Linked DNA regions of Homo sapiens. The gene in region 6 interacts genetically with the main gene of each other region. Each region holds a gene or a part of one and is shown on either strand. Other genes may lie near its edges. The genes, in order: CDC73, RB1, TOP1, RRM2, KDM5C, WEE1 and ADA.

Region 1 (3,500 bases), on a different chromosome or scaffold from region 6:
GAGTTCGAGACCAGCCTGAGCAACATGGAAAAACTCCAACTCTACAAAAATATAAAAGTTAGCCAGGCATGGTGGCAAGCGCCTGCAGTCCCAGCTATACTCCCAGCTACTCAGGAGGCTGAAGGAGGAAGACAACTTGAGCCCGGGAGGGTAAGGCTGTGGCAAGCCAAGATCCTGCCACTGCACTCCAGCCTGGGTGACAGAGCAAGACTCTGTCTCAAAAAAAAATAAAAAATAAAAATAAACCAGTCTATATGGAATATCATAAACAGTTAAAAGATTTGAGTTAATTTTAAGTTACTGTTTCTAAGTCTAATAACTTACATCATCATTTGGTCACTACTGAGTTATGTACACATCACAATCCACTGAAAAAGATTACATCTACTCACACTAAAATAGGAACTAAGGATCAGGAATCTGTTTTCAGAGTGGTCTGCTCAGCCGGACGCAGTGGCTCACGCCTGTAATCCCAACACTTTGGGAGGTCGAGGCGGGCGGATCGCGAGGTCAGGAAATCAAGACCAACCTGGCTAACGTGGTGAACCCCCGTCTCTACTAAAAATACAAAAATTAGCCAGGCATGGTGGCGTGTGCCTGTAATTCTAGCTACTTGGGAGGCTGAGGCAGGAGAATCCCTTGAACCCAGGAGGCGGAGGTTGCAGTGAGCCGAGATCACGCCACTGCACTCAAAAAAAAAAAAAAAAAAAATGAGTGGTCTGCGCACAGGAAAGAGCAAATAACACAAAGTAATTAGGAGACAACAATCTCGAATTCATAGAATTTTGGAATTTTAGAATCCTACTCTTTCAATCTGGCAAATACTTATGAAAAATGAGTTAAATCTTATGCAACCAAGGGTCCCAAGGTCCACAGTAACAATTACAGCTATCAGTTATATGCACAACCATTTCCCAAAAACAGAATCTATAAATCTAAGCCAACTATCTGAATCTTTGTTACACTAAAATGAATATATCCAACAAAACACTGTAAGAACTACCTAATTTAGTTTTTAAAGATCTGAGTTAAAATAACCTTAAAGACGGAGCTGGTGCTATTTTTTTCCCCTTATTTTCCCAAGTAGTCCCACTCTAATTTTATTTTTTTAAATATGTAACATAAATATATATTTCTTACTCAGGAAAGCAGAAGCCTTATGGTTTAATACAAAGCCCACTAAGTGACGGGATACTTTCTCAATTGCTATAATCACACACACACACACACACACACACACATTTTTTTTTTTTCCCTGAGACAGAGTCTTTGCTCTATCACCCAGGATAGATGCATTGGTGTGATCATGGCTTACTGCAGCCTCAACCTCCTGGGCCCAAGTGATCCTCCCACCTCAGCCCCTTGAGTAGCCAGCTGGGAGTATAGGTGCACACTACCACGCCTGACTAATTTTTTTTATTTTTTGTTTTAACAAAGTTTCCCTATGTTGCCCAGGTTGGTCTTGAACTCCTGAGCTCAAGTGATCCTCCCACTTGAGCTCAGCCTCCCAAAGTGCTGGGACTACAGGCATGCACCACCACACCTGGCTTTTAGTTGCTTTAGACAACAAGTTATTGTTTGAAAGATACATAAGCCAGAAACCTTAACTATTTCTAGTTGGGAGGGAGGTTAGAGTTATAGAAGTTAAGTTTCACACAGCTTAATGTGATCCAGCAACGGTGTTAGGTAACTCAAAAAGCAGCTCCAGTGATGACAGACACAGTGATATTTTAAAAAATTGTTTTAAGAACTATAAGAAAAGTTTAAGAAGATTGTTTTAAGAACTATAAGAAATGGGAAAAAGTAGTTATTTATAAATACATTTCATACTTAATTTTAAGTGTATACTTGTAAGCAAAAGCAACAAATATTAAAAGCAGACATTTAATTATTTCAATTATATCTTCAAAAAATTTTATGTTCAACTCTACCAAAAATAATCTGAGGGAAAAGCTCATTTAAAAAAATTAAATATCTTTTAGGCCATTTTATGTGGGCATTATAGTACTTTTCCATGTCATACAGCTATCCTATCCAAATAACTCTGAATCTTATTTACTTATCAATTATAATATACTGCTATAATTTAGGTCTTAATGATACTTCCCTACAGATGAAGAATCTCATCATCATAGTTTATGAAATTAGTTCTTTTCAAGTTGTTTCCAAATATTTCCTCTGAGTAATAAATTTTCAAACACTGAGAAAGCAAGCAAAACTAAAAACAAATGAACTTCTCCAGAGTACTAAAACAGCTGCACAAAACTGATTAAGAAACAATTTTTTTAAATGTCTGCTAATCTTAATCCTTACAACCAAAAAAAGTTTTCTTGAGATTAAACTAGAGTTCTGAAGTAACAGGGTCCTTCCACAGGCTTACAAGTTTTTCTAAACATCTCTATAAATACTTTTAGCGTTTCGGGTTTTCTTTTTCTTGAGATGGCATCTCACTATGTTGCCCAGGCTGGTCTTGATCTCCTAGGCTCAAGCAACCCTACCGCCTTAGAGTCCCAAGTAGCTGGGATTACCAGCGTGCACTAAGAAGCCTGGCTCTATAAATCCCTTTAAAACTTCCTTTGTTATAAACATTACCCACACTTTACATGAAAAAATATCACAGATTAAAAAGTCTGTGTAAGTCACACAGTCACCTAATTTTGACTCTCCTGGAGACACTCATACAAACCTTTCATTCTTTTGATTTGAAACCCATGAGGGAAGCTATCCATTCCAAATGATACCTACTACCACGAAGCCAAAAAAAAAAAAAATGTGTTAATACAAAAATTAGCCCGGCATGGTGGGCCATGCCTATAGTCCCAGTTTCTCAGGAGACTGAGGTGGGAGGCTGGCTTGAGCCCGAGAAGTAGAGGGTACAGTAAGCCGAGATCACACCACTGCACTCCAGCTTAGGCAACAGAGCCAGATCCTATCTCAAAAAAAAAAAAAAAGTTTTAAAATGAATTATTGGCCAGGCACAGTGATTCATGCCAGTAATCCCAGCACTTCGGGAGGCCGAGGCAGGAGGATCCACTGAGGGTAGGAGTTCAAGACCAGCCTAGGCAACACAGCAAGACCCCCTCATCTTTAACAACAACAAAAAAAATTAGCCAGATACGGTGGCACAGGCCTGCAGTCCTGGCTACTTGAAGGCAGAGGTGGGAAGATCACTTGAGCCTAGGAGTTCGAGGCTGCAATGAGCTATGATCACACCACTGCACCCTAGCCCGGGCAACAAGGCCAGACCCTGTCTCTTAAATAAATAAAAATAAAACTGATAAATAGATAGATAAGTAAAATGAATTCTACTTACAGCTGCACGTCGGACATAAACAGGATGAGAAAGGTGCACGTTATTAAGTAGAAATAAAATGGAATCCAATGTGTAGTACTCTCTGGGTTGGCCTTCCTTTCCAGTCCTGAAATAATTAAGGCAAGATTTTTTTTACTGACAATTCTAATTCAACTCTTCAGGCTGGATTCATTTATATAAACAACTT
Region 2 (3,500 bases), on a different chromosome or scaffold from region 6:
AAAAAGAATAAACATACAGAGCAATGGAATAGAACTGAGACTCCAGAAATAAACCCTGGTTTTTATAGTCAACTGATTTTCATCAAGGGCACCAAAACAATTCAATGAAGAAAGAATAGTCTTTTCCATAAGTGGTGCAGAGACAACTGGATATCCACATTCAAAAGACTGGAGTTAGACCTCTTCCTCACATCATACACAAAAATTAACTCAAAAAAAAAAAACAAAAAAAAACCCAAGACTGACAAGAACTAAAAACCATATGACTTTTAGAAGAAAGCACAGAATAAGTCTTCATGACCTTGGGTTAGTCAAGGCCTTCTTAGATACAACATCAAAAGCCCAAGCAACCAAAAAAAAAACCACCACCAAAAAAAAAATAGAAAACTGGACTTCATCAAAATTAAAATCCTACGCTGCAAATGACATCATCAAGAAAGTGAAAAGGCAACTCACAGAATGGGGGGAAAAGTCTGCAAATAATATATCTTATAAGAGATATGCATAAAGGAGAAGCTTTAACTGCATCTTAAAAACAGAATTTAGGCTAAAAGAAAAAAGAAGGGTATTCCAAAAAAAGGGGAGATCGCATGAATATGAATACTATCATATTCATATGGAAGATATTCATATGGAAGATTCATATGGAAGGGAAGAGAACACAGGCATTGGGGGCCAACAATGGAAATAAAAAATAAGACTGGAAGGAAGGTTAAAGCACAGACCATGAAGAACTACAAATACTGAGAAAGTTTGGACTTTACTTCTTCATAATGGTGGTGGGAGCATGGGAGGGTGTTACAATGGAGGCTACTGAGAGTGGGTTGTAACAATGAAAAATAAATTTTAAAGCAAAAGGGGCAAACTGTACACCAGTCTTTTCTAAAAATCAGGCACAGGATGGATTGGATGGAGAAAAGAAGAGACTAGTCAGAAAGAGGCACTAAAACATGCATAAAAAATGCTCAAGTCAATGACATAAGCTTCCACCTTCTGAAATTAAAAAAATAAAAAGGAAATTAAAACCAAAGCAAACAGTAAAAACCAAGCACTGCTGGTAAAAGAAATGAAGGGACAGACGTGAGAGGCAATGCAAAAAGATAACTTGAGACTGAACGGATAGGTTTAAAATAGAAGGAGTCTGGTATAGTTTTAATTAGTCCTATGGACAGACACTGAATACCAAGGTAAACCTGTAAAGAAAGCAAATGGTAGTGTAAAATTCCACTTCTTCCTAGAATGCAGAAAGCTGCAAAGAGTATTGCTCCCACCCTCACAACAAGAACAAGCCAGATAAGGAACAAAAACAACCTTTCTTGAAATCAACATATCCTTTCCTTATATTTCAGATTATTTAATTTCCCCTAAAAAAAGGAACCTCCAATGAGAGAAAAGATATAAATAATGGCTCATCTGTGGCACAACATGAAAGGAAGAGACACAGGGAACCCTAACAAAAGTAAAAAGTATTCAGCTAAAAATTTTTAATGAATGCTGATTACAAAACAACAAAAATCCATTTAAATATAAAAAAGAAATAGGTTAAAATCAAAATGAAGGTAAACGATACACATTGTAAAGAGTGATCACAAGAAAAGTGGAATCGATATGTGGACACTGCAGAACAAAAGATATAAATTTGGATAAAAAAGCACATTACATAATGATAAAGGTACCAATTTACCTAAAAGGCATAAAAATTCTAAACTTGTATGTACCCAAGGATAAAGCTTTAAAATACACTAATAAAGGCCAGGCACAGTGGCTCACGCCTGTAATGCCAGCACTTTGGGAGGCCGAGGGCAGATCATGAGGTCAGGAGTTCGAGACCAGCCTGACTAACACGGTGAAACCCCGTCTCTACTAAAAATACAAAAATTAGCCGGGTGTGGTGGCGCATGCCTATAATCCCAGCTACTCGGGAGGCTGAGACAGGAGAATCGCTTGGACCCGGGAGGCAGAGGTTGCAGTGAGCCGAGATCGTGCCACGCACTCCAGCCTGGGTGACAGAGCAAGACTCCATCTCAAAATAAAATAAAATAAAAAATACATTAATAAAAAACAGAATTTAAAAGGACCATTCTAATTATAGTTGGAGGCTTCATATTTCTCCCTCAATAATTAGTAAAACACATAGAAAGAAAATCAGTAAGGATATGGATGATCTACTGTACCTTTTCTATGTATAGATATACAAATACTTACCATTGTGTTACAATTGCCTACAATGTTCAGTACAGTAACATGCTGTACACATTTGCAGACTAGGAGCAACATGCTATATACCACACAGCATAGGTGTGTCATAGGCTATACCATCCAGGTTTGTGTAAGTACATGCTATGATGTTCACACAACGATGAAATCACCTAATGATGCATTTCTCAGATGTGTTCCCATTGTTAAGCAACACATGACTGTATTTATTTAAAATATAACCACCATATCACAAAAATAAGTAAGTGGTTCTATCAAGAGCAATATATCCCAAAGCTCTTTGAGATATGTATATCATACATTTCATATACATATATATGTATGTATAACAAAAAGCCTATGAGGTTCACATTCAGGCATTATTTCTGCCTTACAGGTGAGCAAACTGAGACTCACAGAATTAACCAATTTGCCTAAAATCATATAGCTACAATATAATTACAACCAAAGTTTCCTGCCTTGAGGTCCAAGGCATTTTCCATTCTACCATACTACCAATCAAGATGCAGAAAGTAAACCAAAATTCTAACAGCTGATTCACCTTAAGTCACAATATGAACATCACCTTAGCCAATTTCTTAATGGAAAGTCCTATTCATATGCTATAATCAGCATAAATACAATCTAACCTTATGAACAAAGCTAATCTTTATTATTACACTTTACTAAATATTTATTTTAAAAAAAGAAAACACTTTTCTAGACAAAATACCACAAACTTTTCCTTTAAAGGGATTAATATATGCTTTCATGTATGCATAAACAACTTTTCTGATGCTAAAGTACTTAAAAATAAGAATTTTAACAAACATTACTACATCAAAATCACTACAATGCATTTAAAATTGTAACCATTTTAACTGATATCCTAAGTTCTCCTAAAAAAAAATACATCAATGATAAAATTTTCTGGGGTATTTCTTAAGTAAAATTATTCTGTTTGCAAGACCTAATATACATACTCATTGACTCTAATAAGAGCTTTATATGCATTAATTTATTTAATCTGCACATAACTCCAAGATCCAGAAATTACTGTCAGTCCCTTTTACAGGTAAGAAAACTAAGGCTTGAAAATTGTAGATAACATGTTCAAGATAATGGAGTTCGGACATGGTATATCTGTTTGACTCTTAATCCTTGCTCTTAACCCATCCTCTATCCCAATAAACATCACCTACTTTCTATTGTTAAAAAGGGTTTCCTTTTTGACAATATTCCTCCTCTTGTTTCAAAGAAGAGAGACAACTGCCACTAGAATAGCTGCACTGGAAACACATTTA
Region 3 (3,500 bases), on a different chromosome or scaffold from region 6:
TTGAGACAGGTTTTTCCCATGTTGCCCAGGCTGATCTTGAACTCCTGGGCTCAAGTGATCTGCCCATCTCGGCCTCCCAAAGTGCTGGGATTATAGGCATGAGCCTCCAGGCCTGCCCCAAAGATTTTTAATCCACAATTTAAGGTATGAGAAACAAACAAAGTGGTGTGTATGCAGCAAGCCTTGTCACTGGACAACTGAAGTTGCCGCAAAGTCAAAGCAAGTCAGTACCCTCCTGAGCCAGCCTTTCTATGATTTACAGCAATAGTATCATACTCAATGCTCCCTAGTGACCCCTCCAGCTTGGTTAAAATTTCACAATAGATATATGTGCAAATTTAAAGAAAGTAAAGATGTTCCCTTTGTACAAAAGCCTAATAAAGCAATTTCTGAAAAAGGTGTTGTTGTTGTTGTTTTTTAGCATTGGCAAGGAACTAAAAATTCTGTTCTAAGCTTCACCTTTCATAAAGTAATCCTCTCATGCTCTTTAATCCTCAATGTTGTAAGGTAAGTATTAAACCTACTTTATAGGTGAAGAACTAAGGCTCTGATATTAACTTGTTCAAAGACCTAGCCATTGAGCAGAAGCTCAAGAACTCGAATTTAAATTCCCTTTAAGTCTCTATTATGGGGTGGTGGGGATGTAGAGGGGGTTGGAGGCCGGGAGACTATTCGCATTCTGTATCAGAGGAAAACGAAAGAAAAAGAGACCAAAGCTTTGAAGACTTTTAAATCCAACCCTATTGTGGGCACATTCCTTGTATACTGAGGGCAATGGAGCTACAGAGCATTAACAAATACTCATCTTCCCAGATTTTTTTCCCCATATTTTATGAGCTATATTTTTCCTGATATGTTTATCTTTGAAGACTCTTTAAAATTAGGCCCTATTCCATAATTTCTATACAACAAAATTATGTCCTCCTGCCTACTTTTAATTGAATTTAAGTCTGCGCCTGTTGTGATGCTTCTGTGATAATCCTTTTGCTGAATGGCGTAAGATCTCTACTAAGATCCATTTGGCTTAAACCTAATGAACACTAGTGAACACATCCTTAAATGACTTTTGTTTATTTCCTTTAAGTAACACTTCCAAAAAAACAAATTCAAGGCAATTCAATATTCAGCATTAGCTAGACTTATGAGCCATTACTGAAATTTCTACTGACTTTATCAAATTTTTTCATGGAATCTCCCAAATGCCTATACTCACGCATAACTGTTAACACGGCATTTGGTACTAAATTCTCACACATAAGCTTTATTATATTATTTAAGGTATTCTTATTCCCAAGAATTACTATTTCAAAGAAAACCAAGTTGGTCACTTTAAGCAACTATTTGAATAAATGAAAAACTGAAGTAATTCTCAGGTGCTTTGAGAGTTCTCTGTTTAATTTAAAAACGTTTTGGGGGAGAAGTAAAATAGTGGCCTTTGAAAAAATATGCTGACACAAGACATATTGAATTTTGTGGTTTTAAAAAATTAACAAATAATGAACTTGGCATTTTATTAAATGCATCGAAAAGGGTCAAGTTATTTTTAATAGAAAATCCATAATTCTATTAAATGGTTGAGAAATTAGTCACATCAATAGACTTCTTTCATTTCTGAGCCCATCTTCTGTACTGCTACAAGTTCCTTTGGCAATGACCACTTTGCTGTAAACATTCTTAGAAAAGTAGGAATTAGGCTTGGCGCGGTGGCTCATGCATGTAATCCCAGCACTTTGGGAGGCCGAGGCTGGTGGATCACGAGGTCAGGAGATCGAGACCATCCTGGCTAACACGGTGAAACCCTGTATCTACTAAAAATACAAAAAATTAGCCAGGCGTGGTGGCGGGCGCCTGTAGTCCCAGCAACTTAGGAGGCTAAGGCAGGAGAATGGCGTGAACCTGGGAGGCGGAGCTTGCAGTGAGCCGAGATTGCGCCACTGCACTCCAGCCTGGGTAACAGAGTGAGACTCCATCTCAAAAAAAAAAAAAAAAGAAAAGTAGGAACTAGATATACAATTGGATCCTTCTCAGCCCAAACCTAGATATGAAGACACCTTTTACTTTACAGTGACCGCTTTGTAACTGGAAGACATCAGTGTAGGCTCTGCTGATTCAATTAGGTAAAGACTCAACAACACTAGTTACATGTTACAATTCACTGTGTAAATGTCAAGAAGATTTAAAACTTTAACAGGGAATACCAATGAAAGACAGACTCCCCAACATCAATCACTATTTCAAACCTAACATTCAAAATAAAGATCCAGTTGAGAATAGAGGCTGTCTCATCAAAGTTTACATTTTACAATGAGGACAGAGAGGCACCTTCATATACTTATCTAATTCTCAACAGTTTGTGAAACATAAATATTATCCTTGCTTATGGATAAGAAAACAAGGTTCAGTGGTCAGATCATGTTTCATAGGAAGAACAGGGACTTATCTCGATTTTTCGGAATCCTACACCAATTTTCTATTTTACCACAGCTGTCTCCTCACACCCCCACTCTTCCCCTAGACCTAACATTCCACATACAAAGGGTCCAAGCTATCTCTAACAGCAGATAATCAAGGGCAGGTTCTGACATCTGTACTAGAAGCTTACCAATTACAGCCTGAGTGGGGTTTCCAGAATCTGGACCAAGGCAGCATGTTATCAAAAAGGGGACATGAAAAGGCATAAAGGGTAAAAAGAAAAAAACGTTTCCTTTCCTGGTCTCTGGTTCTCCCCATAAGCCTATGCAATCTATATTATCTTTATTCAATTCAGATTTAATGCACATAAAAATGTGGTGCCTAATAAGTTTTCAAAATTAGTTCCCTTCATCCCACTTCTGCTGCTTGGCAAGAGCTCACATAGTCAACTACAAGGAAACAAAGGGGCTACCTTACTGGAGTCAGGTTAAGTAAAAGGTCTTAGCCAATGAGATCCACAAATGACAATGATCCTGAAGCCTCCTAGATTAGTCTCCTGCACAATCAGTAATATACCTACAAAGCTTTATAAATCTGGGCATTCATACATATATGATAGCAAGATTAACATTTGGACTTCTACTAAGGGGAAAAAGGGTGTATTATTCTGGTGGAGGACTAACCTTCAACAAAGAACTTTTTTTCTATAAACTCCAATAGCCAAGAAAAGTCCTAGGCATCTATCTTTGCTAGCGTGTGCTAAGAAAAACAATATAAAGAATAATGGGACCACAAGCTGGCTGGGTCGGTTTCGTTCTTAAAATATAGGAAAACGTCAGAATACCCAGGGATCTGTTAAATTCTTTTCCCAACATCATCATTTACAACAACAAATACAGGAGATCTGAAGTCCCTAAAAATACTGATTGCTTTAACATCTTTTGTTGGAGCTTACCTAGGTGTTTCTTAGGAATGCTAATGAACTGTGTTCTTTAGGCTCCTTGAATCCACAGAAACAAAAATGTTAATTTCAAAGGCTCAGAGGGGAATTAATTGCCTGGTAGAGATGCCTCCCCACCCCAAATCTG
Region 4 (3,088 bases), on a different chromosome or scaffold from region 6:
CAGCCCCGGCTTCACAAACCCCACGTGCAGTATGGCAGTTAGTATTTTTGGGCACCACCTTTCGGGTGTACCTGTCTCCTATACACCTTGTGCCAATAGGCACAAGGCAAGTCTCTTGCCCAGAACCAGTGGAAAGCAAATGAATTCGTTAGCCTTTACAAAAAACACCTTTTTTTTTCAGACAGTCTCACTCTGCTGCCCAGGCTGGAGTGCAGCGGTGCAATCTCAGCTCACTGCAACCTCTGCCTCCCGGGTTCAAGTGATTCTCCTGCCTCAGCCTCACGAGTAGCTGGGATTACAGGCGTGTGCCACCATGCCAGGCTAATTTTTGTATTTTTAGTAGAGATGGGGTGTCACCATGTTGGCCAGGCTGATCTCGAACTCCTGAGCTCAGGTGATCTGCCTACCTTGGTCTCCCAAAGTGCTGGGATTACAGCCATGCCTGGCCAAAAAATATTTCTCTTCCTGAATTAAAATGCAAATTTTACCAATCAAGAAACTGACATAAGAACAGTTTTATTTTAATCACTTAAGACTTGTGCATTATTCAATTTTGAGACTGAAATACTTGTTTCCCTTTCAACTGATTAGGAAATGGTCTGAGCTGGCAGAAGTTAATCCTCACATTATTCAGCTAATGAGAGACAGAATCCTAAAACCTGATTCCAACTTCCGCCTGTACCTCACAATGCAAGACAAAGCCTTTCATTTTAATGTTGTACACATATAAGGACCATATAATCTGGATTAACTTTAGGTAACAATAACTTAAAAGATAGGAAAATGTATCATATTACAGAGATTTAAAAATTGTCTATACAATAAATGATGAAGAAAACTAACAATAAACAGGACGACGTTCAAATACTGAATACAATTAACAAATGGGGCCAAAAGATCAACATTTATCTCTCATCATCTTTCATGCAATGTCTCAGCTTTCTTCTCCCAAACATAAAGGCAGATTAATTCAAAGTAGCCCTATTAAGAATATTTGTTTATCACGCCTGCAATCCCAGCACTTTGGGAGGCCGAGGTGGGTGGATCACCTGAGGTCAGGAGTTCAAGACCAGCCTGACCAATATGGTGAAACTCCATCTCTACTAAAAATACAAAAATTAGCCAGGTGTGGTAGCACATACCTGCAGTCCCAGCTACTAGGGAGGCTGAGACAGGAGAATTGCTTGAACCCAGGAGATGGAGGTTACAGTGAGCCAAAATCGCGCCACTGCACTCCAGCCTGGGCAACAGAGCGAGACTCCATCTCAAAAAAAAAAAAAAAAATTATGTTTCATTCTGAAATTAATATTTGAATGGAAACTGTATTAACAGCTCATGGTTTCCTACTAAAGTTTAAGATCCCCCTAGACAATGCTCAGATTTAGACAATGCCAGAATAAGACACTGGGTGACTGAAGTATGAACTACAGGTAAAATCTAGAAGAACATAGATAATAAAAAATTTCTGATTTAACAGACATAGTAAATATAAATGAATTAACTCACACAACCTACTTACACCAAACAAAACTAGAATGAACAACTTGTAGGAACCACCTCTAGTTGATTTCACCACTTAACAGGGGCAAGATCTTAGGTGGATCATTTTGTTTAAGGATGACTTGAAATTTTACAATACTACCTTAGCTCCCACATATGAAAACTCTTCAAGAATTTTTTCTCATCAACCAGACGTTGAGGAAAATACAGTGAGAAATAAAATGAAACGGCTTCTCACACATATGAAGGCCCAGATCACCCCTAAATTTCTAGTGATTTAACTTAAGAAGCTCCTTGCCCTGAGAGATTCCTTTATCCCACAACACTCTACTCAGAGGGGGCAGAGAATCCCAGGACACTACACAAGCCACAGGATAAAAACACAACCTGTCTTCTATCTGGCACCAACTGACTAATATCTAGGTATACACAGGACTGACTTTAAAGTTGGTTAACAAATATTTTAATTCATTAAAATAAAACTTAAAAATTACATGCTTAGTCTACACAAGTTTAACTTACTTTAGTCACTTAGTGAATTGTGAATTGGCTCCCATTAGTGGTCAGGAGAATGTATTTGGTGTAGAAACCAAATAAATCAAGCTATTATCGCCTTGTGAGTACAAACAATGTTTATTTGTTTGTAAAGTGCCAGGTTTATATTTAAGTAAACATTAAAATCTGCGTTGAAGCAGTGAGGCTGCATCTTTTAACTGGCTGTGCTGGTTAAAGGACTGTTTAATCCCGCTGTGCTAAGCTCACTAAAGGGTCACCCCTCACTTTAAAGCCAAGACTGCCATTGTCACTGCTATGGTAAGTCACAGCCAGCCAGGCCTTCTGGCAAAAGGTGATACTACCAGCACTATAAACAGACAGGACTGGTTGTGAGGTAGCTACACAGTTTTAAAGATGCTGTTAATGAACATTACGGACAATTCATGGTGTGGCTAGTTGGTAACACTTCAGCTGATTTTTCTTATGAGATGGAAAAAAAAAATCAGCCAAGTAAGGGCACATCTTCAGTTCATTTAGAAGTCAGCATCCAAGGTAAAAGAATTCTCTGTTGGACTTGACATCACTCCCATCCTCTGATACTCGCCTACTCTCTTCTCAAAGAAGTTAGTCTTTCCTTCCAGTGAAATATTCTCCATAAAGTCAAATGGGTTCTCTACTCTGAAAACCTGAAAAGGTTCACATCAAGATATAAATACAGAGCACCAGCTTCAAAACAAGCAAAAGGCTATGTAAACAATACTTTACCTTGCTAAAACCCAGTTCCAGCATAAGTCTGTCTGCCACAAACTCAATGTATTGCTTCATTAGAGTGCAATTCATCCCAATGAGCTTCACAGGCAAGGCCTCAGTGAGGAACTCCTAGGAACCAAAATACAGCTTCTGAATACAACTAAAGCACAGGCATTTTCTAGCAAGCTTGAGTGACCCATTTCATCACCCACTTTACCTGTTCTATCCGAACAGCATTGATAATTATTTCTCTTACTCTCTCCTCCGATGGTTTGTGTACCAGGTGTTTGAACATCAGGCAAGCAAAATCACAGTGTAAACCCTAGAAAAAAAAGTTCAAGAT
Region 5 (3,500 bases), on a different chromosome or scaffold from region 6:
TGGAACTATAGGCGCACGCCACCACGCCCGGCTAATTTTGTATTTTTTGTAGCAATGAAGTTTCACCATGTTACCAGGCTGGTCTCAAACTCCTAAGCTCAAGCAATCCATCCACTTCGGCCTCCCAAAGAGCTGGGATCACAGGCACAAGCCACTGCACCACTGCACCCAGCCACCTCTCTCTCATTTGTCACCTTCCAGTCAATCAGAGAAGCCCAAGGTCCCAATAGAGAGGGTCACAACTGCCAAAAGCTTTAGATATGTCCTCTAATCTCCCTGACAAGGTCATGTGAGTATTATCATCTCCTATACAGATGAGGAAACAGAGGCTCAGAGGAGTTAGGACACACAGCAAGCATCAAGATATTTTGGTGCCAAATAATTTGAGCTTTGGCTCTCCCTCTGCTACTGATTTGCTATGCTGCCTTGAGCAAATCAGTTCCACTGTGGACTCCTTTTTCCTTTTACTAATAATTATAAAAGGAAAATAACTGCACAGTCCACTTACCCCAGAGGGGTAGACTTAATGAGGGGACCAGTGAAGATCCTCTGCAGATTTCAGAATTATATCTAAGCTCTAGGCATGTTTCAGAGAAAGCAAGCTCCAAAAAGGCACATGCACCTCCTTATGTACCACCAAACTTGTTCCATGGTGGCTAAAGGGTGAAAGTGCATGCTATAACTATAGACAGAATGGCCTAGAACTAAGAGATGGTATATCAGAGTAGCACTAGCACCTGGCCAACCCAGGACCCAATGTGGGCCAAGGAGACTAGAAACAAGATATGTATGATGCTTCCCTGAAATCTCAGTAACCAAGAAGGACTCCCATAGGCCCCAAGTCTACAACCTCCTCACTCCAGTCAGAGAGCCTGGTTCTTGGAAGAACTAGATAGTCATTACCATTCACTACCTTGCCCTGATCCCATTAGGGGGAACAAAGACAGCTCTTTCCATTTCATAGTTGAGAAAAACTAAGGTCTATTTGTAGAAAGAAACAACCTACAGTTCCTTGGCTGTGAGAACTCTCAAAGGGCAAGGAAGTGCTCCTTCAACCTCAGCCCCTTAGCTTTCTGAAGTTGGCCTCATCCCTGCTCCTTCTTATTAGTCAGCACTCCCTCTACAGAAAACCTGCCCTTGTGTCATGCTAGGCAACATCTTGCCCAAGCTGTACCCCTATAAACCTGACAAGATATATTTTTCTTTTCTGAGATGGGGTCTTGCTATGTTGCCCAAACTGGTCTTGAACTCCTGAGCTCAAGCAATCCTCCCACCTTAGCTTCCCAAAATGTTAATAGTGCCGAGGCTGAGGAACTCTGGTCTAGAACACAAGTGAACTTTTAGGGTATAAGTATTCAGCTGGGCCTGGGCCTAATGCCCCACCCCTTGGACATCTATTAAGATTTGTGGGTACATAATAATGGGGGAGGGAGTGGCAACATATGCCTAACCTAGAGCTGCCATGGAAAACTCCAGGATCTTACGTGGAACTGGCTTTAGGGAACCTAATCTCACTACCCCAGGGCATTCTCAAGCAGGAAAAACCCCACCTGTCCATGAAAAGGGCCTGGACTTCCTGTACAGAACAAAAGGGAGAAGGAAAATCCTACCTGCCTGACCCCTGGCCAAGTCTCTAACCATTCCAGCCTCCACAGAGCCCAGTTCTTGTGTTGTTCTGCCCATCTACCCAAACTCCCACCTTACCAAGCACCCATGGAAGCAAAGTAGAAAGCACAGGGCTGTGGATGAATTGGATATATGAAGCCACATTCAGCTGGCCAAGGAAGAAGGGGTATCAGCCAGTTCCATAATTCCTTTTTGTTGACTCAGCTAGGGTAGGCTAGTTTACAGGGGAGTTTCAGAAGTAGCAAACCTTTGTGAGAAAGGGATATATGTCCCCAGCCTTTGGGCTATCAAATCACAAATGCTAAATGCCCCTGGCTCTTGGTTATATTTAGAGCTCTAAAGCTTCTTCCACGCCCTGGGCACACTAAAGTAATGCAATTTCACAGAAGAGAGAATAAAGGCCTAGCTAGGTAAAGTACCTCAGCCAGAGAAACTATAAGGGAAGTGGGATTAGAACTCAGGTATACATTCTCCCAACCCCACCACCAGCTCCTAGTCTTCTCACCTCTAGCTCATTCAGCCTCTGGATTCGGGGGGTAAACCTGAAGTTGTCCACTTCCACAGCAAAGGGTGGCTGCCAGTCCTGAGAGGGTAGAGAGGGGAAAGGGACTTGAGTTATCTCAGCATAGTGTAAGACCGGAAGTCACCAAAAGCAGCTCGGAATCCCACTGGCACCTTCCCAAACCTCTAGCCACTCCAGACCCTTTAACCTGCAAACATCCTACCCAACCACCCACCCCCACCTCCCCCCAGAACTCACAAGAGTCTAGCAGCCCCTCAAGTCTGCACCCAAGGCCCCATGCACATGCCCTAGGAAACTTCTCCTGAGTCCCACCCAACAGTACAGTGCCAGGATTTCAAGAAATTAAGAGATGGAGCCTCTGTTTTGTTGACCCTAAACCTTCTCCACACCCACATTAATTCCTTATCCCCTAGGCACGTGCTGTAGGACACACAGGCCTGGGAGTACTGGAAAGCACACAGGATCTAGAGTCAGAAGATATGGGTTCATGTTCTAGATCCGCTACTTACTAGCTATGAGATTTTAGCTTTCTGAACCTGTTTTCTCATCTGTGAGGTGGGAATATGAACTCTAGCCCTGGCTTCCTTGCCAGACCAATATGGAAAATTAAAACTAGTTTTCAAATGAAAATGTTATTCAAAGGAGTCACCGTTATGACCTGACATCTAAGGCTGACCACACCTCACAATACACATGCAGGGTAGCTCAGGTCCGATTGTGGCAGGACGTAAAGGTTTGGGCCTTTAATGTTTGTTCTCTCAGTTTAAAGGGCCTGAGATAGACACTGCAGGGAAGAGCAAGGAACAGGGAGCAAGTATGTGTATCACTCACCCAGTCTGGAAGGCTTCCTGTAGATCCTCTCTCATACACCTGCCTGGTACAGGAAGAGGCAGGGGAGGAAGCCCCAGGGGGTGGGGGTAAGTGCTGGGATGCCTGACTGTGGTGGCAAAGAATGGGAGGATTTGGGGAGGGAAGTCAGGGAAAGATCATGAAAGTGGGAGACACTCTGCTCTGCCAAGTTGGAGCTTGCTGTGTCCTGCCCAAAGGTCAGCTGTGAAGAACCCCCTCTCCAACACCCCTTTCCAACCTCCTATGCAGACCTCTCCTTCCCAGAGCCCTGGCTCCTGCTGGGGTGGTGAAATCAACCTAAAGTAACCTAAACCAATGTTCTCATTTTATAAATGGGGAAAGTGAGGCTCAGAGAAAAAAAGTGAAATTTCCAAAATTACATGCTGAGTTAGTGGTGGGGCCAAGAACCCACGTCTTCTGACCTCTGATCCAAGGCCTTTGCACTACACCAGACATCAATGTTCATACATACATGCATACACGTGGGCGGGGGGGAGAGACA
Region 6 (3,500 bases):
TTTCCCCATACCCTTGACAAGTCTATAAATGTTATAGGTAAAAAGACAGTATTTTAGTATAGTTATAATTTATACTACTCTTACTATGAATGAGACCATAACCTGCTTTTATAGAATTAGTTAAATCAATCAGTTAATTTGTTTATATTTTTTCAAACTTTTAAAGTTTGTATTTCATCTCAAAGGCAATGAGGAATTGTTTTAAATATCTCCTGTTTAAGGCTTAGGAATAAAAAAATCAGAGCTGGGTACTAAAATTAGGAAGGTCAATGATGTATTAGTCAGAAAAGGAGGTCCTATAATTTAAATAAGAAAATAACATAACGTCAAATGTGTTTTTAAAATAAATTATACATCTCGGTATCTTAGTCTTAAGTATGTTCTCCTTACTTGTACAAATCTTGAACTGAGGGAGGGGAAAGAGTGCTCTAGAAGGGAGCAAACCAATAACGCTGTCAGACAAGATAGGCTAAGTCCTAGATCAAATGTGCTAAGAAAGAATATGGCTAATTCTCTTTTTTAGCAGGTCCAGCAACCATAGCTGTGCCCATTTCTTCTCTTATTGCTAGAAGGGCAAGAAAGGTGATGAGAGCAAAACAGGTTCTGACATTTCAGGTTCTCTTTCCCTATCCATCAATATTTTTCTACACTTGTTTATACAGGTTAATTCCAATCTATCACCAAACCAAGATAAAAGGCTTATAATGCAAATGAATAAGATAATAAGGAAATTAAATCACAATAAAGGGAATCAGTTACTCATGTACAAATAAATATCAGAATCCTTTTCCAGTGAAACTGTGGAAAAGATGTGAAGATGAGCCCTATTGGTATATTCAAAGCTTTATGTGGAGAGAGGAACGGTGGACACAGGAAACAAAAGAGATCACAAATGCATCCAGATAGTCGTATTTTCTTTTATCTAAGTAGGACAAATAGCCACACAAAGAGGCAGTCCTGTTTCATGCAGGACTATTTATTTTCTTCAAGAGTTTTATATTGCTTTAAGAGGCCGAGGCAGGTGGATCACGAGGTCAGGGTTCAAGACCAGCCTGGCCAACATGGTGAAACCCCATCTCTACTAAAAATACAAAAATTAGCTGGGAGTGGTGGCGCGCATCTGTAATCCCAGCTACTCAAAAGGCTGAGGCAGGAGAATCGCTTGAACCCTGGAGGCAAAGGTTGCAGTGAGCAGAGATTGCGCCACTGCACTCCAGCCTGGGCGACAGAGCAAGGCTCTGTCTCAAAAATAAATAAATAAATAAATAAATAAATAAATAAATAAATAAAAACTTATTTTCAATAGATTATTTTATAATCTAACATTACAGGACAAGGTTTTTGTAATCTGAGAGGGTAGCAAGACTACTCACTCAGTTCCCTATCTCCCAGGCCCACGTGAGTTTTCTCAGAATCATCTGATTTACACAACCATGTATTGGTAGGTTGCTACATATTTGACATTCCTGGACTACTAATGAACTATTCTGTTAAGAGAATTATTCACATCAAGAAGGTGAGAAAGAGAAAGAAGGAAACTGAAAAGAGATGGTGTCTAACAAATATCAAATGGAGACGACATTGTGGTCAAGTTGTTCTAGGTTAAATGCAATACCTGAAAAATGAAGGTTAAGAAATAGAATAATCCATAAGGTTGTGATAGTTACATAAATATTTTGATGGTATGAATAGAAACATTTCAAGAGCTGTGTGAAAAAAACTAGCAGCAAGGCTGTATACTAGACACTCAAGTTCTTTCAAGTGTGGAGAACTTTATTAAATAATGAGGAATCAGGTTTGAAAAATGGATCTTTTACTTCTGTTTTGTTCACTGTTTTTAAATATGGGGAACCTGAATCCATACCTACACCACTTATTTATTTACAAGTTATGAGATAACTGGTCTTGTTTATTTAAGGAATAATAAGAATCAACAAAAATAAATTTTGTTATCTCCTCTCAAGTGTTCACTAAACTCTAAATTGTCTATATTCACAGAAGATATACAGAAATAGAAACAAACTACAGATATTTTTCATTTCAGACTGGTAATGTGCTGATGTCGTAACAAGGTTTGAGGGAGGCACATTTCACACTTGAGTATGAAAACCCAATCATCACACTTATAAACTACAAAAGTGTTGAGAAATAATCCATAAAAGATTTGGTATATAATAATGACAGACGTCCATAAGAACCAGAATTCTGACCAAGACTTTGGTAAAGGTTTTTAATAGAAAAGGAGAGACATAAGTCGGCCCTTGAAGGACTTACCGAAACTGAAAGCTATACAAGACATCCAAACTTGAATCTATACATGCCTGTTTTGTTTCATCCTTAGGGGAGAGGAGGGAGAGACGACAAGCTAGAGAACTAAAAGAATGTAACATAATAAAGCGTTAGTGGATTCTAGGGTAGACTAGGTTGGATACGTGGGAGTAGGGCCGGACTACAGAATGCTTAAAGAAACAGCTGAATTTAGATCAACAGAGACTCAGTGACTAACAAACATCAGTTTTAGCAGCACCTCACATGAAATGGAAATCAAAGACCAGACACAGGAAGAATCTATTCAACTTAACACTTCATAATACTATATGCTTCACACACTACGCTAGGTACTACGGACACCAAAATATATGTGTCGAGGCCATAGTCTTGTCAAAAAGCTCAGTTGGAGCGACAAGCACATAAATAGTATGCGAAGTTCTACTACTGAGATATGTACAAGGTGCTTCAGAAAGGACAAGGTTTTTAACCTTGTACTTGAAATTTATGTTAGGTCTCTGATCTTTAAATTTATAAAAGATAAAAGTGACAGAAATAGAGCAAGATTTTAGATAACCATAAATATTTCCTCGATGTTCATTTTCTCAAGCTCACAAGAAAACCATTACATCACTCACCATTACAATATTCATTCTGTATAAGCATATGATCATCTTCTGCCCACGCAGAGAAATATCGAACTACATGAGAATGCTGTCCAAGCACTGCATGAGCATATACTTCTCTCAAAGCGTTCTGCCTAGAAGAAATTTGAGATTAATAGAATGGTAAATAATTTTCACTCAAGCTTAAACTGAATTAATTTATCTGAAACTTCATACAATAAATTTTTGGTATCTATTGTTATGCTAAAAAGCAACTTGCTTAAGAGAGAAGGGGTTTAGACTTGTAAGAGATTTTTCCAAAGGCAGATTCCATTAAAGATTTATCAGAAAGAAGAAATGTTGCTTGCCCTAGGACTCAGGTAAGAATAAACTCCATTTTACTGTGAATTCATGGATGCTGACTAGAAATAAGAAATTTAAGTTAGGTTCCAAAATCAGACTCATATTATTCAACAAGTCCAATAAGAACTGATGGTATTAAGTGAAAAGGACCTGATTAAATCATTACAGCTTCTCAAAAGTTAGAGATGGAATTCAGTGTTTGACCAGCTGAAACCTTAATGTTAGTAACACCATAGGGGACAAAAGAGCAAAAGACAAAATGTT
Region 7 (4,239 bases), on a different chromosome or scaffold from region 6:
GCTGCCCTGCTCTGCTTTCTTCTAGCTGACCAGGTCCCAGGCCTCAGCTGGTGGCAGGTATGAGAAGCTGAAGGACACAGCAAAGGCTCCTGTCTCAGGAGGTTTGCACCTGGGGCACTGGCACCTCTATCCCCAAAGGCTTCTGCAGAGGTAGTTTAGGAAAGATGGTTAGAGGCATGGGATTTCGAAGCCAGCCTCCCTTGGACTCAAACCCCAGATTGGACATTTCCTAGCTGTGTGATCTTGGGCCTAGTTAACCTCTCTGTGCCTGGATTAAATAAAAAATGCAGATAATGTGTTTAGAACGGTGCCTGGCACAGAAACATCAACACTCCATTAGCTGCAGCTAGTAATGCTAATAATTATAACTGTCATCTGTCCCTCCCACAAGAGGGCAGGGAGCTGGCTCTGGTCACAGTGGCTCTGAGATTCACACTCCTTCCCACTTCTCCTGCCAGCTCACACAAGTTCCTCCTCACAATCATACAAGATTTGTCACGCCTCAAACACATGGCAGGTAACATTCTACCTTCACTCTCAAGCATCACCTTGTGGCCTTGGGACTCAGGACACGGGACACCCACATAAGCAGCTGATGTTCCATCCTCCAGGTGTGGACACTGAGGTCCCAATAGGGAAAATGATCTGCCAGCTTGAATCAGATGGGAGGACTGAGCAAGGCCAAAAAATGGGGATAATAATATGAGCCCCTCCCTTGATGGGCTGTTACAGAAGAACTGCAAGGATCCAATGGGTGTCTGCAACAAGTGCTCTAGAAGTGGGCCCTGCTGTTCTCTCCATAACTCCCAACATGTTCGCAATCAAGGAGCCTTTTTTTTTTTTTTTTTTTTTTTGAGACAGCGTCTCACTCTGTCACCCAGGCTGGAGTGCAATGGCGAGATCTCGGCTCACTGCAAGCTCCACCTCCTGGGTTTATGCCATTCTCCTGCCTCAGCCTTCTGCGTAGCTGGGACTACAGGCGCCCGCCACCATGCCCAGCTAATTTTTTATATTTTTAGTAGAAATGGGGTTTTGCCATGTTGGCCAGGCTGGTCTCGAACTCCTGGCCTCATGATCCACCCACCTTTGCCTCCCAAAGTGCTGGGATTATAGGCGTGAGCCACTGCACCCCGCCAATCAAAGAGCTTTGCTATTGCCATAGGATTCACATCAGGGTACAGTGGGTCCCCAGCCCAAGGGCAGAGGGAGCCCAGAGCATTTAATAAAAAGACTGCAAAGGGGAGGCGCCAATCATGGGCCCCAGCTCCAGTAAGACGTGAAGGAGGCAGGGGTGGGGGTAGGAGGGCTTGTACAGCACCTCAGTGCTTCCAGCTTCTGACGGGGAGTAGCTGAGCATTTTCCCTGGGCTGGGGGCATCAGTAGTGGGGGCCAGGCCTCACCCTCCTCAGAAGGTAGGTGGGCTCTCCACAGCCTGTCTCCCTCACTGACACATGCACACTCACTGGATTCTCACCGGCACTTTTGTGATAGCTGTCATCATCATTCACACCTATTTCTTTTCTTTTCTTTTTCTTCTCTTTTTTTTGAGACAGGGTCTCGCTCTGTCTCCCAGGCTGAAGTGCAGTGGCACCATCACACCTCACTGCAGCCTCAACCTCCTGGGCTCAAGCGATCCTCCCGCCTCAGCCTCCTGAGTAGCTGGGACTACGGGAGTGCACCACCACACACACTTCCCCTAACTTTTTTTATTTTTTGGAGAGACGGGGTCTAGTTTTGTTGTCCAGGCTAGTCTCAAACTCCTGGACTCAAATGATCCTCCCGCCTCAGCCTCACAAAGTGCTGGGATTACAGGCGTGAGCCAACCTCCTGGGCCACTCACACCTATTTCTTAGAAGGGTAAGTTGAGGCTGACTGCAGCTGACTCCTTCCCCAACCACTCTCACACCCTACTGGCTGACTCACCCTGCTTGGCAGACTCCTGGGCCCCTCCTCTCGGACTCTGCGACAGGCCAAGGGGGTCCAGACCCTCCCTGACCCCAACAGTCCCAAGACGCCACAGCTGGTGGGCGGAGAAACAAGGGGATTCTCCCCTGGGGCCAGTGGCCATGGCTTGGCCTCGAGTGAACCCTGCTAGGGCCCCAAACCCAGGGCCTACCTAGCTCCTGTTCTTCCCGCGCGGGGGAAGGGGGGTGCTCTGCTCCCCTCCCTCCCCTTTCTGGCAGGGCTCACGGTTCTTCCCCGGGGCGCATCCACAAACCTGAGCTCCTTGGCGCTCACCACCATAACGCTGGCGTACAAAGCTGCTTCCATTCACTGAGCACTCAGTAGGCGCCGGGCACAGCACTAGGTGCCTATCCGGCGTAGACATCGGGCCTGATCATACAGCTGAGCTTCAGAGACCTCAAGTCCCTGCCCAGGCCCACACAGCGCTCAGCGGTGCTAGGATGCCCACTTGACAGACAGCGAAACTGAGACCCAGAGGGGTCAAGTCAGGGGCAGAAGCAGACTCTGGAGGCCTCCGGGTTCTGGACCTTCTCTGCCCCATTGTCCCTGATTAGCCCGCAAGCAAGCCACGGCCTAAGCCGAAGGAAGAACTCGCCTGCAGGAGCCCCCGTTCGTTCCCAGGGTTTGGACGCCCCGGGCTGGGCCCCGCTAAGCCCCTCGGGCCGCCCAGGCGCCGGACCCCCGTCCCCGGAGCCCCCGCGCGCGCTCACTTTGGGCTTGTCGAAGGCGGGCGTCTGGGCCATGGTGCCCTCGTGCGCCCCGGCGCTGCTCCCTCCGCCGCCGCTCGGTGGGTCTCTGCCGGCTCGGTGGCCGCTCGGCTTTCCCTGGGGCCAGCGGTGGCCGCGGCCGGCCACGCTCTTCTTAACGGGCCGGGCCCCGCCTCCCGCCCCGCCCGCCGCCGTTCCCGGGGCCCGCCCTCTCGCCGGAGCCCCCGCCCCGCCCGCCGGCCTGGATCGCGCATTTCCTGGAATTCTGGACCCGGCGTCCTCGCCCGCCGACCCGAAAACTACGGCCCCGCGGCGCCCGACCGGACCCACCTGTGGGCGCGCGCTCCAGCCGCCTCGCTGGGCGCTGCCTTCCCCCCGGCTCCTCCAGCAACTTTCAAGCGTCCCCCTGCAGTCTGGGCGCTGCTGTGCGCCAGGCCCAAGCTAGAAGCGGGGACCCCGGGAGCATCGCAAGCCTCGAGCGGCGTGCCTTCCACCGGATAGACGGACGCTCGTCGCAGAAACACACACCATAATTGTATAGTTAAGGAACTTTCGAGGGGGGCCAGCCGTGGCCTGCAGAACCTGCAGGAGTTCATCAGGGGTGGGTGGGGGTGGAGAGGACATTCTACGTGAGAGACTCCAGGGAGCTGGGAGTGAAAGGAGGCGAGGAAGGCTGGAGCTCGGAGGGAGGGAGAACACAGACAGTCCCCTCCTGGGCATTCACCTTTAAGAAACCCGCCCAGGCGCAGCCAGAGACCTGTGCAGAATGTTCACACCAGCGCTATTCCGAATAACAGGAACATTGGAAACACCCTCAAATGCCCCTCCACGGGCGAGTGGGCAAATAAACCGGAATATTCACACCATGAAACGTTAGACAGCAGTGAAACGGAATGAACTTCAGCCAGACAACAACAGAAACAATGTCTCAGAAACAATGTTGAGTGAAAAAAACTAAGTTGCGGAAAACTGCATACAATGGTGCAACTTTTAGAATGTGTAAAAGCAAAACCAAAAGTATGTATGTTTAGACACATGCATCGGTGGAAAAAATGTAAAGCAAGGGAAAGATGAGCATAGATACGAGAAGAGTGGTTATCTCAGGTGAAAGGGAAGGAGCCGGGAGGAGGTAAGGACGGAGGGAAATAACACGCGGGTACAGGTTATTTATTTATTTATTTATTTATTTATTTATTTATTTATTTATTTACTGAGACGGAGTTTCGCTCTTTCGCGGAGGCTGCAGTGAAGTGGCGCGATCTGGGCTCACTGCAACCTCTGCCCCTCTGGCCCGCCTCCTCCCCACCGCTCCCCCGCACCCCCAGCGTTTCAAGCGATTTTCCTGTCTCAGCCTCCCGAGTAGCTGGGATTATAGGCGCCCACAACCACGCCTGGCTAATTTTTGTTTTTTGTTTTTTTGTTTTTGTTTTTGTTTTTTTGAGATGGACTCTTGCTCTGTCGCCCAGGCTGGAGTGCAGTGGCGAAATCTCGGCTCACTGCAACCTCCACCTCCTGGATTTTAAGCAGTTCTCGGCCTCAGCGTCCCGAGTAGCTGGGATTACAGGCG

The links.
Region 1: changes in WEE1 (region 6) and CDC73 are lethal when combined (synthetic lethality), as found in Homo sapiens cells (one large-scale study listed by BioGRID).
Region 2: changes in WEE1 (region 6) and RB1 are lethal when combined (synthetic lethality), as found in Homo sapiens cells (one large-scale study listed by BioGRID).
Region 3: changes in WEE1 (region 6) and TOP1 are lethal when combined (synthetic lethality), as found in Homo sapiens cells (one large-scale study listed by BioGRID).
Region 4: changes in WEE1 (region 6) and RRM2 together harm fitness more than expected from each alone (negative genetic interaction), as found in Homo sapiens cells (one large-scale study listed by BioGRID).
Region 5: changes in WEE1 (region 6) and KDM5C together harm fitness more than expected from each alone (negative genetic interaction), as found in Homo sapiens cells (one large-scale study listed by BioGRID).
Region 7: changes in WEE1 (region 6) and ADA are lethal when combined (synthetic lethality), as found in Homo sapiens cells (one large-scale study listed by BioGRID).

The regions. Positions count from the first base shown.
Region 1 is NC_000001.11:193,125,031-193,128,530, reverse strand, and holds part of CDC73 (parafibromin), read right to left. Parts: intron 3,420-3,500; coding exon 3,314-3,419; intron 1-3,313.
Region 2 is NC_000013.11:48,310,251-48,313,750, reverse strand, and holds part of RB1 (retinoblastoma-associated protein), read right to left. Parts: intron 1-3,500. UniProt on the Homo sapiens protein: Tumor suppressor that is a key regulator of the G1/S transition of the cell cycle. The hypophosphorylated form binds transcription regulators of the E2F family, preventing transcription of E2F-responsive genes.
Region 3 is NC_000020.11:41,035,322-41,038,821, reverse strand, and holds part of TOP1 (DNA topoisomerase 1), read right to left. Parts: intron 1-3,500. UniProt on the Homo sapiens protein: Releases the supercoiling and torsional tension of DNA introduced during the DNA replication and transcription by transiently cleaving and rejoining one strand of the DNA duplex.
Region 4 is NC_000002.12:10,128,827-10,131,914, reverse strand, and holds the end of RRM2 (ribonucleoside-diphosphate reductase subunit M2), read right to left. Parts: intron 3,068-3,088; coding exon 2,963-3,067; intron 2,875-2,962; coding exon 2,761-2,874; intron 2,682-2,760; coding exon 2,529-2,681; 3' UTR 501-2,528; downstream 1-500. UniProt on the Homo sapiens protein: Provides the precursors necessary for DNA synthesis. Catalyzes the biosynthesis of deoxyribonucleotides from the corresponding ribonucleotides. Inhibits Wnt signaling.
Region 5 is NC_000023.11:53,218,708-53,222,207, forward strand, and holds part of KDM5C (lysine-specific demethylase 5C), read right to left. Parts: intron 2,210-3,500; coding exon 2,132-2,209; intron 1-2,131. UniProt on the Homo sapiens protein: Histone demethylase that specifically demethylates 'Lys-4' of histone H3, thereby playing a central role in histone code. Does not demethylate histone H3 'Lys-9', H3 'Lys-27', H3 'Lys-36', H3 'Lys-79' or H4 'Lys-20'.
Region 6 is NC_000011.10:9,576,670-9,580,169, reverse strand, and holds part of WEE1 (wee1-like protein kinase), read right to left. Parts: intron 3,029-3,500; coding exon 2,907-3,028; intron 2,143-2,906; exon of another isoform or gene 2,039-2,142; intron 1-2,038. UniProt on the Homo sapiens protein: Acts as a negative regulator of entry into mitosis (G2 to M transition) by protecting the nucleus from cytoplasmically activated cyclin B1-complexed CDK1 before the onset of mitosis by mediating phosphorylation of CDK1 on 'Tyr-15'.
Region 7 is NC_000020.11:44,648,900-44,653,138, forward strand, and holds the start of ADA (adenosine deaminase), read right to left. Parts: upstream 2,801-4,239; 5' UTR 2,709-2,800; coding exon 2,676-2,708; intron 1-2,675.